Regions from separate parts of the Homo sapiens genome. Here region 1 is linked to region 2. Evidence: fine-mapped expression QTL. Tissue or cell type: whole blood. Region 2 holds a variant in brackets; the other region holds the start of a gene. All regions are shown on one strand. Distances are between the middles of the regions.

The links. PIP is the estimated chance that this variant, and not a neighbour inherited with it, causes the effect.
Region 1: DNAAF5 starts here. The variant in region 2 is fine-mapped to the expression of DNAAF5 in whole blood (TOPMed, PIP 0.96).

Annotation. Positions count from the first base shown.
Region 1 is chr7:723,571-728,687 of GRCh38, reverse strand. DNAAF5 (dynein axonemal assembly factor 5) reads right to left here and starts at 1,989. Exons shown (of 13, transcript NM_017802.4): 1 at 1,373-1,989. The coding sequence starts at 1,967. It overlaps PRKAR1B (protein kinase cAMP-dependent type I regulatory subunit beta), which reads left to right and starts at 1,407. Exons shown (of 11, transcript NM_001164760.2): 1 at 1,407-1,478. RefSeq lists silencers at 1,127-1,206, 1,247-1,356, 1,417-1,466, 1,717-1,916.
Region 2 is chr7:774,622-779,818 of GRCh38, reverse strand. It overlaps DNAAF5 (dynein axonemal assembly factor 5), which reads right to left. Exons shown (of 13, transcript NM_017802.4): 11 at 4,657-4,813. Among named protein-coding and RNA genes, the nearest start is that of PRKAR1B, 50 kb to the right of the region's middle. The variant T/C (reference allele first, on the strand shown) is at 2,959.

The DNA of each region.
Region 1 (5,117 bases), 51 kb after region 2:
GGAACCTACGGTCCAGGGAGGGAGCTCGTGGGGCTGATGTACAGACTGGGTAGGGAAGTGGTTGAGGATGAAGAAGAAATACATTAAATGCCAGGAATTCTCAATGGCCATGTCCATCCAGCCCAAGGTTCTTCCCCAAGCTCCACAGGAGTTCTGGACCATGTGAAATCCAAAGTTAACCAACGTGGAAATCTCGGCATTTCCCCAAGTCCAGCTCTTCCTCTACTTCTGGAATCTATTCTCCACGCAGCTGCAGTGATCTTTTAACAACCTGAACTCGGGTCTATCACTTCTATTGACACCCCCTGCACTTCCCACTACATTCAGACCATCACTGGGACATCACTGGGACGGCCTGAGCTGGCCAGATCCCTCACTGCTTTCCTGCTCCCTACCGCCCACGGATTTATAGCATCAGTGTTCCCTCCTTCGGAAAGCCTTCCCGCCAGCAGGAAGCAGGCGCCTGCTATCATTCCACATCCCAGCCAGGGGAGGGAAAGGGCAAGACCCTGCAGGAATGGCCAGCTAAGGAAAGGGAACGACCGGATCAGATCAGAGCTCTAAAAAAGATGGGGAACGTTATAAAGTGGAGGGGAGAAGCGGCCTCCTTCCACTTAGGACAGTGGTCCAAGCCAGAGCGGAAAGGCAGGGGAGTAGGATGAATGGGACAGAAAGTGAAATGACCAGAGCAGAGTCTCAAAGCGCGTGCCCTCAACCAGGTGCAAGTCCTGCAAGCCCCCGAGGGAAGGAAAGGGGGCAGCTATCAGGGCACACCCCACCCCAAACCGCCTAACAGGAATTTCTGCGGTGGTTTCCAGGTATCTGGACAGAAGCGCTGGCTCGTGGGCCCGGGTGGGGTGGAGGGGGCTCAGGCAGGGAGGAGGGTGGGAGGTGAGGGTCGCGGGAGGGCGGCGTGCAAGGAGGAGGATGGCACAGGATAGGCAGGTGGAGGGGGCACAGGGAGCAGGCAGGTGGGGGGCGGGGCTTGGGGCGTGGAGGGTGGAGGCGGGGAGCAAGGGGACAGGGGAGTGAGGTGAGTGAGGGCCAAGCAGGAACAGGGGTCACGGGGCAAGGAGCACGTGGCAGCGCAGGAAACAGGTACATGGGGGTAGAGGACAAGGGAGCAGCTGAAGGGCGCGTTGGTGGCGGGACGTGAGGCAGGGGAAGCAGTGGTGGTGGGAGGAGGGGGCCGGGCGGGGTGCTTTGGGGCAGGCGGGTGGGGGAAGCGGCGCATGGGGGGTCCGGGATGTTGGGGGGTGCGGGCGTGGAGGGGGGCGGGGCCGAGCCGCGGGGGTTGTGAGAGGGGCCGCGGAGGTGGAGGTGGGGGTGAGAGTGTGGGGTGGCGTGTGGGAGCGGGGCCCGGGGTGCTCACCGGGCGTGGCCTGCGCCAGGGCGGCGGCGCAGCTGCAGCTCTCGCGGCGCACGGCGGCGAAGGGGTCGAGCAGGGAGCAGCGCAGCGCGCGCAGAGCGTCGTCCAGGTGGGGCGCGAGCGCGGCGCCGCACAGGTCCACGGCCAGGCCCAGCAGCTGCACAAGCGCCAGGCGCAGCTCCTCACAGGCCTCGGGCGGGCGGCGCGCGGGCACGGGGCCGGCCAAGCGCGCGGCGAGCGCGGGCAGCAGGCGCGGCAGGGCATCGCGGGGCCGCGCGGCGCGGCGCAGGCCCAGATCCAGCAGGTGCACTGCCAGCGCGCGGCAGCCCTCGGCGGGGTCGCTCAGGCAGCGCAGCAAGCGCGGCAGCAGTAGGCGCGCCCAGGGGCCCTGGAAAGCGGTGGGGTCGGCGGCAGGGCCTGGCTCCTCCAGCGCGCGCCGCAGGGCCTCCAAGGCGCGCCGCCGGCCCGGCTTGCTGTCGGCCTCCAGCCCCGGCAGCAGGCGGCTCAGGGCGCGGCTCAGCTCCACCGCCTCAGCCGTCTCGGCCCCCTCAGCCGGGTGTGGGGCCGCCACGGCCTCCGCCACCCCCAGCGCCGCCATCTTGCCCGCGTCGCCGGTCACTAAGGGGAACAGCGCTTTCGCGACTCTCAGCGCAGATTACGGCAGCACTTCCGGTCCGCGCTGCGGGCGGGGCGCCGGGCTACTTCCTCCCCGCCGGTGCGCACGTGGGCCTGTGCTCTTGTCGTGCTCGCCCGCTGTCCCCCTCTGTCGCCGGAACCCCCGCCAGCCTGCCTGCTGGGCCTTGTCCTGTCCCCATTGTACAGATGGGGAAGGTCTCGGGAGGGTGCAGCTCGCCCGGGATGCGGGTCCCGGGCTATAGGCCTGGGCCTGCCCCTAGGGAAGCCTGCCCTGCAGCCTAGGGGGCTTGGAGAAGGAACCTGAGTGGTCCCGCCTGGGACCAGGGTAGCCGGGAAGCCCCTGTTTGAGCCGCCTAGAGCCCCTCTGGCTTTGGGAAGGTCCGTTCCAGGAGGGAAGGACGCTGGTTCTGTGGACTGGATCCCCCTGTGGTGTAAGACAGGTGCCTGGTCTGGGCTTCACGTGCAGCCTGTCATTAGATCTCAGGCGTAGCCGCCCAATAGGTTCGCCTTACTCGCTGCCCAGGTAGAGCCAATTTATCAAGACAGGGGAATTGCAATAGAGAGTTTAATGCATGCAGAAACTGGCTGCATGCAGAAACTGGCTGCATGCAGAAACTGGCTAAAGGACACTGGAGCTTTATTGCTCAAACCAGGTTCTGAAAATCCTGAGATGGGTCATCTAAGGATAATTAGGCAGGTAGGGGGCCAGGGAGAGGGCAGTGCTTATTGGTCGGGTTGGAGATGAAACCATGGAGAGTCAAAGTTGATTCTCTTGCTGTCTTCTGTTCCTGGGTGGGATCACAGAACTGGTTGAGCCAGATTAGTGGTGTGGGTGGTGGCACCTGGTGCATCAGAATGCAGAGCCTGAAAAATATCTTGAGCACCAATCTTAGAGTTGATGATAGTGGTGTTATCCTAAGGAGCAACTGGGGAGGTTTGGAATCTTGTGGCCTCTAGCTGCATGACTCAAACCACAATTTCTAATCTTGTGGCTCATGTGTTAGTCTTACAAAAGCATTCTGGTCCCCAGGCAAGAAGGAGGTTGGCTTCAGGAAAGGGCTGTTATCATCTTTGTTTCAAAGTTAAACTATAAACTAAGTTCCTCCTAAAGTTAGCTTGGCCTACTCCCAAGAAATAACAAGGCAGCTTGGAAATTAAAAGCAAGACAGTGTTTCACAGTAGTGACCTTGACTGTGGACTTGAGTGGAGACAGAGGCGCCTAAACAGCTTGGAGTCGGAGTTGCTGTGAGCCCAGCCTAGAACGCGAGTTTGACAGCACTCACTGCAAACCAGGAGTCCCCAAGTCTGGTTAGCCAGGCACTTCTCATCTGTGACCATGCACTGAGTTTTCTAAAGGCAGAATGTGTGTAATTTTAGGACAGAACTTCAAGTTTGACCTTCTTTTTTGTTGTTGATCTTCGTGTTGCAAAATGGTGGTGTTTGTCGGTACGTCTTTTTTTTTTTTTTTTGAGATGGAATCTTGCTCTGTCGCCCAGCCTGGAGTGCAGTGGCGCGATCTCCGCTCACTGCAGACTCTGCCTCCCAGGTTCATGCCATTCTCCTGCCTCAGCCTCCCAAGTAGCTGGGACTGCAGGTGCCCACGACCACGCCCAGCTAATTTTTTGTATTTTTAGTAGAGACGGGGTTTCACTGTGTTAGCCAGGATGGTCTCGATGTCCTGACCTCGTGATCCGCCCGCCTCAGCCTCCCAGAGTGCTGGGATTACAGGCGTGAGCCACCACGCCCGGCCCATCAGTACTTCTGAAAAGTTGTTATGTAGCATATTCAGTAACCTTCATTCATTGTTTCCTCCAACAGGCATTTGTTTGACCAGGCACTGTCTGCAACATGTGGGACAGGATGACAATGATGTAGAAACTGGCCATGGTCCCTGCTCTCCCAGATCTTAGGGTCTTGCAGGATGAGATAGCCCTTAATGGAAGGATAAATTAGTATGTGTTTAACCGTGGTGGTCCTGAGAGAATGAGTGTCAAGGGATGTTGAACTAGACTTTTAAGGCTTCCCTGAACAAATGGTAGCAGAGGTGAAATATGAAGAATAAGTAAACACAGTGTATTAGTCCATTTTCACGCTGCTAATAAAGACATGGCCGAGACTGGGTAACTTATACAGGGAAAGGTTTACTGGACTCACAGTTCCACATGGCTGGGGAGGCCTCACAATGATGGCCGAAGGCGGGAAGGAGCAAGTCACATCTTACATGATGGCAGCAGGCAAAGAGAAAATGAGAGAGCCTGTGCAGGGAAACTCCCCCTTATAAAACCGTCAGATCTCGTGAGACTTATTCACCATCATAGGAACAGCACAGGAAAGACCTGCCCCCATTATTCAGTTACCTCCCACTGGGTCCTTCCCACAACACGTGGGAATTGTGGGAGCTACAATTCAAGATGAGATTTGGGTGGGGACACAGCCAAACCATGTCACATAGCCAGGTGAAAGGGCGGAGGTGGGAGACGGGGAGTGTTGGAGAGAGAGGAAATAGCATGAGCAAAGGCCTCATGGGAGTGTTACGGGCTGAATGGCGTCTCCCCAAAATTCATATGCTGAAGTCCTAACCCCCATAGTTCAGGAAGTGATCCTGTTTGGAGACAAGGTCTTTGCAGACGTGATTGAGGTGAGATGAGGTCATGAGGTTGGGCACTCATCCAATATGACTGCTGTCCTCATAAAAGGAGAAATTTTGGAGATAGACGTGCATACAGGGAGAATGCAGTATGAGCATGAAGAGAGACCTCAAGAGGAGCCAGCCCGTACCCTGATCTTGAGAAATCAAATTTGTTTCATTCAGCTGCCCAGCCTGGTGTGCTTTGTTACGGCAGCCTCAGGTAGCAAACAGGGAGGGAGGCTGACCCTGGTCACAGGGGAGCAGGCAGGGAGTGAGCAGATGGGTGGGGCCAGGCCATGGGGGCCTCTGTCCTAAAACATGGCAGACTGAGGATTTCAAGGTGGGAGCATTGGCAAGATCGAGTCTGCATTTTTCAAGGACCCCTTTGGCTTCCGTTGAACGGATTGGTCGGGAGCCCTGGGAAGGCTGTGGCAGTGAGTGCTGAAGACGAGAAAGAATAAGCGCTTGAATTACGGTGGTGGG
Region 2 (5,197 bases):
ACTCCGTGCATCCCGAGCCACATGCAAGGTGCTCCTGGCGACCTGGGACCCCTGAACCCCAGCCAACAGAGTGGAGGCGGCCCAGGCCCTGCTGCGGCCCCTGTAATAACCTGTCCTGCAGGCGCAGAGCCTCCCTGTAGCTGTAGCTGTGTGCTCACCTGGTCCTCCACCTCCTCGCAGCTGTGTGCTCACCTGGCCCTCCACCTCCTGCTCCCAGATGCTCAGATCCCCGAGCTGGCCACCCTGCCCAGCTCTGACCCTGCCCTCCCACCAGAGCTGAGGACTCAGTGACAGACAACCCCCTACTGTGGTCAGTTTTCTGCTGCTGAAAACAGAAGGATGATCCTTCCCGATGGGTAGAAACTTATGAGGTTAATGGACATAATTTTTATCAAATTTATGCTTTTTTTACATCATCTTAAAAAAACTTTGGCACCCCCTTCTGTGCAGCATCCGGAAATTCGCAGATGACTGAGTCGCAAAACCACCCGGAGGCCCATCTTCCCGACGCTGGGAGGGGCAGCTGCCCATGCCTGGCATGAGGCCCATCTTCCCGACGCTGGGAGGGGCGGCTGCCCGCGCCTGGCACCAGGCCCATCTTCCCGCTGCAGACGCGAGGGTGGGCTGGGTCTCTGATGCTTTTGCAATGTGGAGGGCATGATCCACCCTCAGCAAGAGGATCCTATGTAACGAAAGGCATGAAAAACATCCAAAGTTCAGGCCATCCTACCAAGCCAGGCTTTGAGACAAGTGGGACCCAGTGGGTTAATTCCTGGCAGATGCCCAGGCACTTCCCTGAGGGTTCTGGGCCCTGAGGGTGCTGGGCCTTCCAGCCACCAAACACAGGCACCAAGGAGGAAGCCACGGAGCACATCCAGGCATTATGGTGCCAAACCCTGAAGCAGCCCTGCACGGCAGGTGCCCTCACTGCACAGCGGGTATGCTCACTGCACAGCGGGAGCCCTCGCTGCATGGGGGGTGCTTTTGCTGCATGGGGGGTATGCTCACTGCACGGCAGGTGCCCTCACTGCACAGGGGGTATGCTCACTGCACGGCGGGAGCCCTCGCTGCACAGTGGGTGCCCTCGCTGCACGTGTCTCAGGAGGAAGGACGGAGTCAGATGCTCAACTCACCCAAGCTTGTCCCGCTAGCAAACATCTATGGGCCCGGACAGGATCCTCCGAGGCCTCCTGCTGGCGCGGTCGACTATGGAAGTACACAGAGTGGCACTGGCTATTGTGTTTTTACGATGGTCACTCCCTGGATGGCCTGCAGGTCCACTTTTGTACCAGTTTAGGGTTCCTTTCATGCACGACTAAGCCAGGCAGAATCGGCTCACGCTGGCCTGTCTGCTGTTCATGTTTGTGTCTGTCTGTCCTGGGAGGCCTGGATGTCTGTGCTCCCAACTCAGGACATCCTTCCTTCCCCACCAAGGAGGCCATGATTCATCCAACACTTCACCCTGGGAAGCCCAGAGCTGGCACTAATAGGCAAGGGGCCTCTCAAGGAACCTTTTGTAGTGAAAATAAACAGGGGGCCGTGGCCCAGATGCCCAAATGCGCTCAGATGCCCAAACGCGTGCAGCCTTTCCGCCAGCTCCTGTTTTAAAAAGTGAGTGAATTCCCAACAATCGCATGGACTGAACTTGTTCCAGAGTCAGTGGGAACAGGATGTTTGTTACTAAAGAATAAAAACAGAAAAGCAAAGGTGAGAGAATGAGTGACAAAGGCCCCCGGACCTCAGAGTTCAGCAGGCGGCGGTTTTTCTGCCCAGCGCCGTGTGTACTGTGAATCTGAAAATTCATGTCTGTCTCCAGTTCTGGAAGATTCTGAGGCACCATCTCTCCTCCATTCTCTTCTCCTGGGATTCAGAAAAGCCCGGGAGCCTCTCGGCCCACTCGGCACCTCTCTCCATCCCGTGTCCTCTGCCCGCTCCAGGCCCCGCGTCCCTCCCCGTCCCGTGTCCTTCGCCCACTCCAGGCCTTGCACCCCTCTCTGTCTCGTGATCTTGAGGAATTCCACATTCCTGGCTTTCACGTCACTAACTTTGTTTTCAGCCACATTCAGTCTAGAGTTGACCCAGTACACAGAGTGTGAAGTTCCGATGACTCCATTCATTTCCGGGAATTAGCAAGAACCATCTTTTAAAAACTGCTAAACATTTCTGGCATAAATACACAAAATATAGATAATCACATTAAGTAGAGCTAATCAGGAACGCCTGAGTGGCCGCTTCCCGCCCACCCCATCCCCTTTCTCCCTCGCTGGGTAACTCCTTTCCTCAAAGTAGTGCCAGCACACCATTCCGTGTCACTCCGGACTTCCCAGCGATCGCTTCCGTTTCCATCTGTTCTTTATTCCTGCTTGTCTTCTTGTTTCTCAACTTGTTTTTTAGTGGATGTTGTTCTTTTAGCTTTTTGAGGATCTTAAACACGCCTCAATAAAGGTAACTTTGAGGTGGTTCTATTATCGGCACTTCCTTCCCGGGCTGGGTGCGAGGCTGCCCTTAGCGCCGGGTCTTCGGTGTTCTGAGGTAGCAGTCCCCAACCTTTTTGGCACCAGGGGCTGGTTTCATGGAAGACAATTTTCCATGGACCAGGGGGTGAGATGGTTTCAGGATGAGTCACGTGCGTTACGTTTATTGTACACGTTATTTCTATGACTACATTGTAACATATAATGAGATAATTCTACAACTCATCATCCTGTAGAATCAGTGGGGGCCTGAGCTTGTTTTCCTGCAACTAGACGGTCCCATGTGGGGACGATGGGAGACAGTGACGGATCATCAGGCATTAGTTTCATAAGGAGCGTCAGCTTGGATCCCTCGCGTGCACAGTTCACAATAGGATTTGTGCTCCTATGAGAATCTAATGCCGTTGCCGATCTGACAGGAGGCAGAGCTCAGGTGGTAATGCAAAAGATGGGGAGCAGCCGTAAACACAGATGAAGTTTCGCT[T/C]GCCCACCTCTCACCTCCTGCTGTGCAGTCTGGTTCCTAACAGGACCCGGACAGGTACTGGCCCATGGCCTGGGTGGCGGGGGCCCTGTCCTGAGGGGTTTGTGTGCAGGCTGCCCTGAGTGAGGGGCTCTCTGAATTCATGACTCTGTTCAGTGCTGCTGCTTTTCGGGGGCTTCAAGCCAACCACCCCATTCCCCTCCCCAGTGCTTGCTCTCACCTGGGGTTGGTCTGGGGTTTGGGCTCCAGGAGGCGGCGACACTGAGGCTGTGCCCCTGGTCCTGCTGCAGGGTGGCCCGGCCCCGTCTCCCCACAGGCAGCTCCAGCCGCCCCACCCTGAGGTCCCCCTTCCCGGCCGCGTGGAAGCTGAGCCTTGTCACCCCCACCCAGTGCTGGTTTGGAGACCTCTGCCTTGCTTCTTGCTGTGCCGTTTAATTTGTGGTATTTCATCTGTCATTGCTGTTTGTTCTCATAGTACCAACTTGAACAGAAGTCAAAGATGAGCATTTTCTATTTTCTTTTTTTTTTGAGATGGAGTCTGGCTCTGTCACCCAGGCTGGAGTGCAATGGTGCGATCTTGGCTCACTGCAACCTCCACCTCCTGAGTTGAAGCGATTCTCTTGCCTCAGCCTCCTGAGTAGCTGGAACTACAGGCGCGCACCACCATGTCCAGCTAATTTTTTTATTTTTAGTAGAGACAGGGTCACCATTTTGGCCAGGATGGTTTCTATCTCTTGACTTTGTGATCCACCTGCCTCAGCCTCCCAAAGTGCTGGGATTACAGGCGTGAGCCACCGTGCCCGGCCACGTTTTCTGCTTTTTTTCTATAAAACAAGCCACCATCAAACTTAAATACAGTCGTCCCTTGGTATCTGTGGGGTTTGGTTCCAGGAATCCTCCTCCTCTAGGATACCAAAATCCTCAAATGCTCAAGTCTCTGATAAAAAAAGGCATAGTATTTGCACATGACCCACACACATCTTCCGGCACACCTTAAACTGTCTCTAGATTACGTTTAACGCTAAATGTAACATCCACACGACGCTTCCTTCACGTGGGTTCAACGTTGTTTTAAGGCAGAACGCAACGTCCACACGACGCTTCCTTCACGAGGGTCCAATGTTGTTTTAAGGCCGAATGCAATGTGTACATGATGCTTTCTTCATGCGGGTTCAACGTTGTACTTGGTGCCCAACAAATTCAAGCTTTGCTTTTTGGAACTGTGGAATTCTGCCCCCCAATACATACATATTTATATATGCAAATGTAAGTACAAATTTGTATTTGTATGTATAAATGCACAAACATGTATATATGTAGCCATACACACACACACACACACACACACACACCCCTACTTTTAAAGACAAGGTTTTGGTCTGTTGCCCAGGCTGGGCTCAAGCGATCCTCCTGCCTCAGCTTCCTGAGTAGCTGGGACTACAGGTGTGTGCCACCAGCCCTGGCTAATTTTTAAATTTTTTGTTGAGATCGGGGTATGGCTATGTTGCCCAGGCTGGTCTCAAATTCCTGGGCTCAAGCAACCCTCCTGCCTAAAGTGCTGGAATTAAAGGTGTGAACCACCACACCCAGCCCGAGATAGTTTTGATCTGAGTTTGGGTGACTCCATGGATGCAAACGGAACCCAGGGACACGGAGGGCTGACTGCATATACACAGGCTGTGAACAACAGAAATGTCCTACCAGGATAAATCCTGATGAGTTTCTCTGGATCCGTCATGCCGCCCGAGGTTTTTAAGAACGTGTTGATAATACGGCATGAGATCAGTCGCGTCATCTTCGAATCCTCCTCCAGGGTGGTCAGGACCTGGGGCATCAGTGTTTCCTGCACGTCCCGTATCTGCAATCAGCAAACACATACGACGTGACTCACATCTGTCCTGGGGTGGGGTGGGGGTGCTCACCATCCGTGCACTCCTGCCTGGAAGGACTTAGGGGGCTTGAAAGCTTTACCTAAAAAGTAGGCTTGAATCTTCATTGTAAAATTTAGATTTTGAGCAATTTTTAACTTGCTTACTTGATTTTTAGAAAATACGCACACTGTTCACAACTCCTAGGTGAGGCACTAACCCTAAACCAGGGTAATGGCTCGCCTGGGCCCCAAGGACGTGGGGCTTTCGGCTGGAGCACCGACCGCACCACCCCGCGTGCACCAGGAGGTGGCGCTGATGCTGCACGGGCGCCCAGGGCAGCGCCTTCCCGCCGGGCGGCGACCAGGACGCGG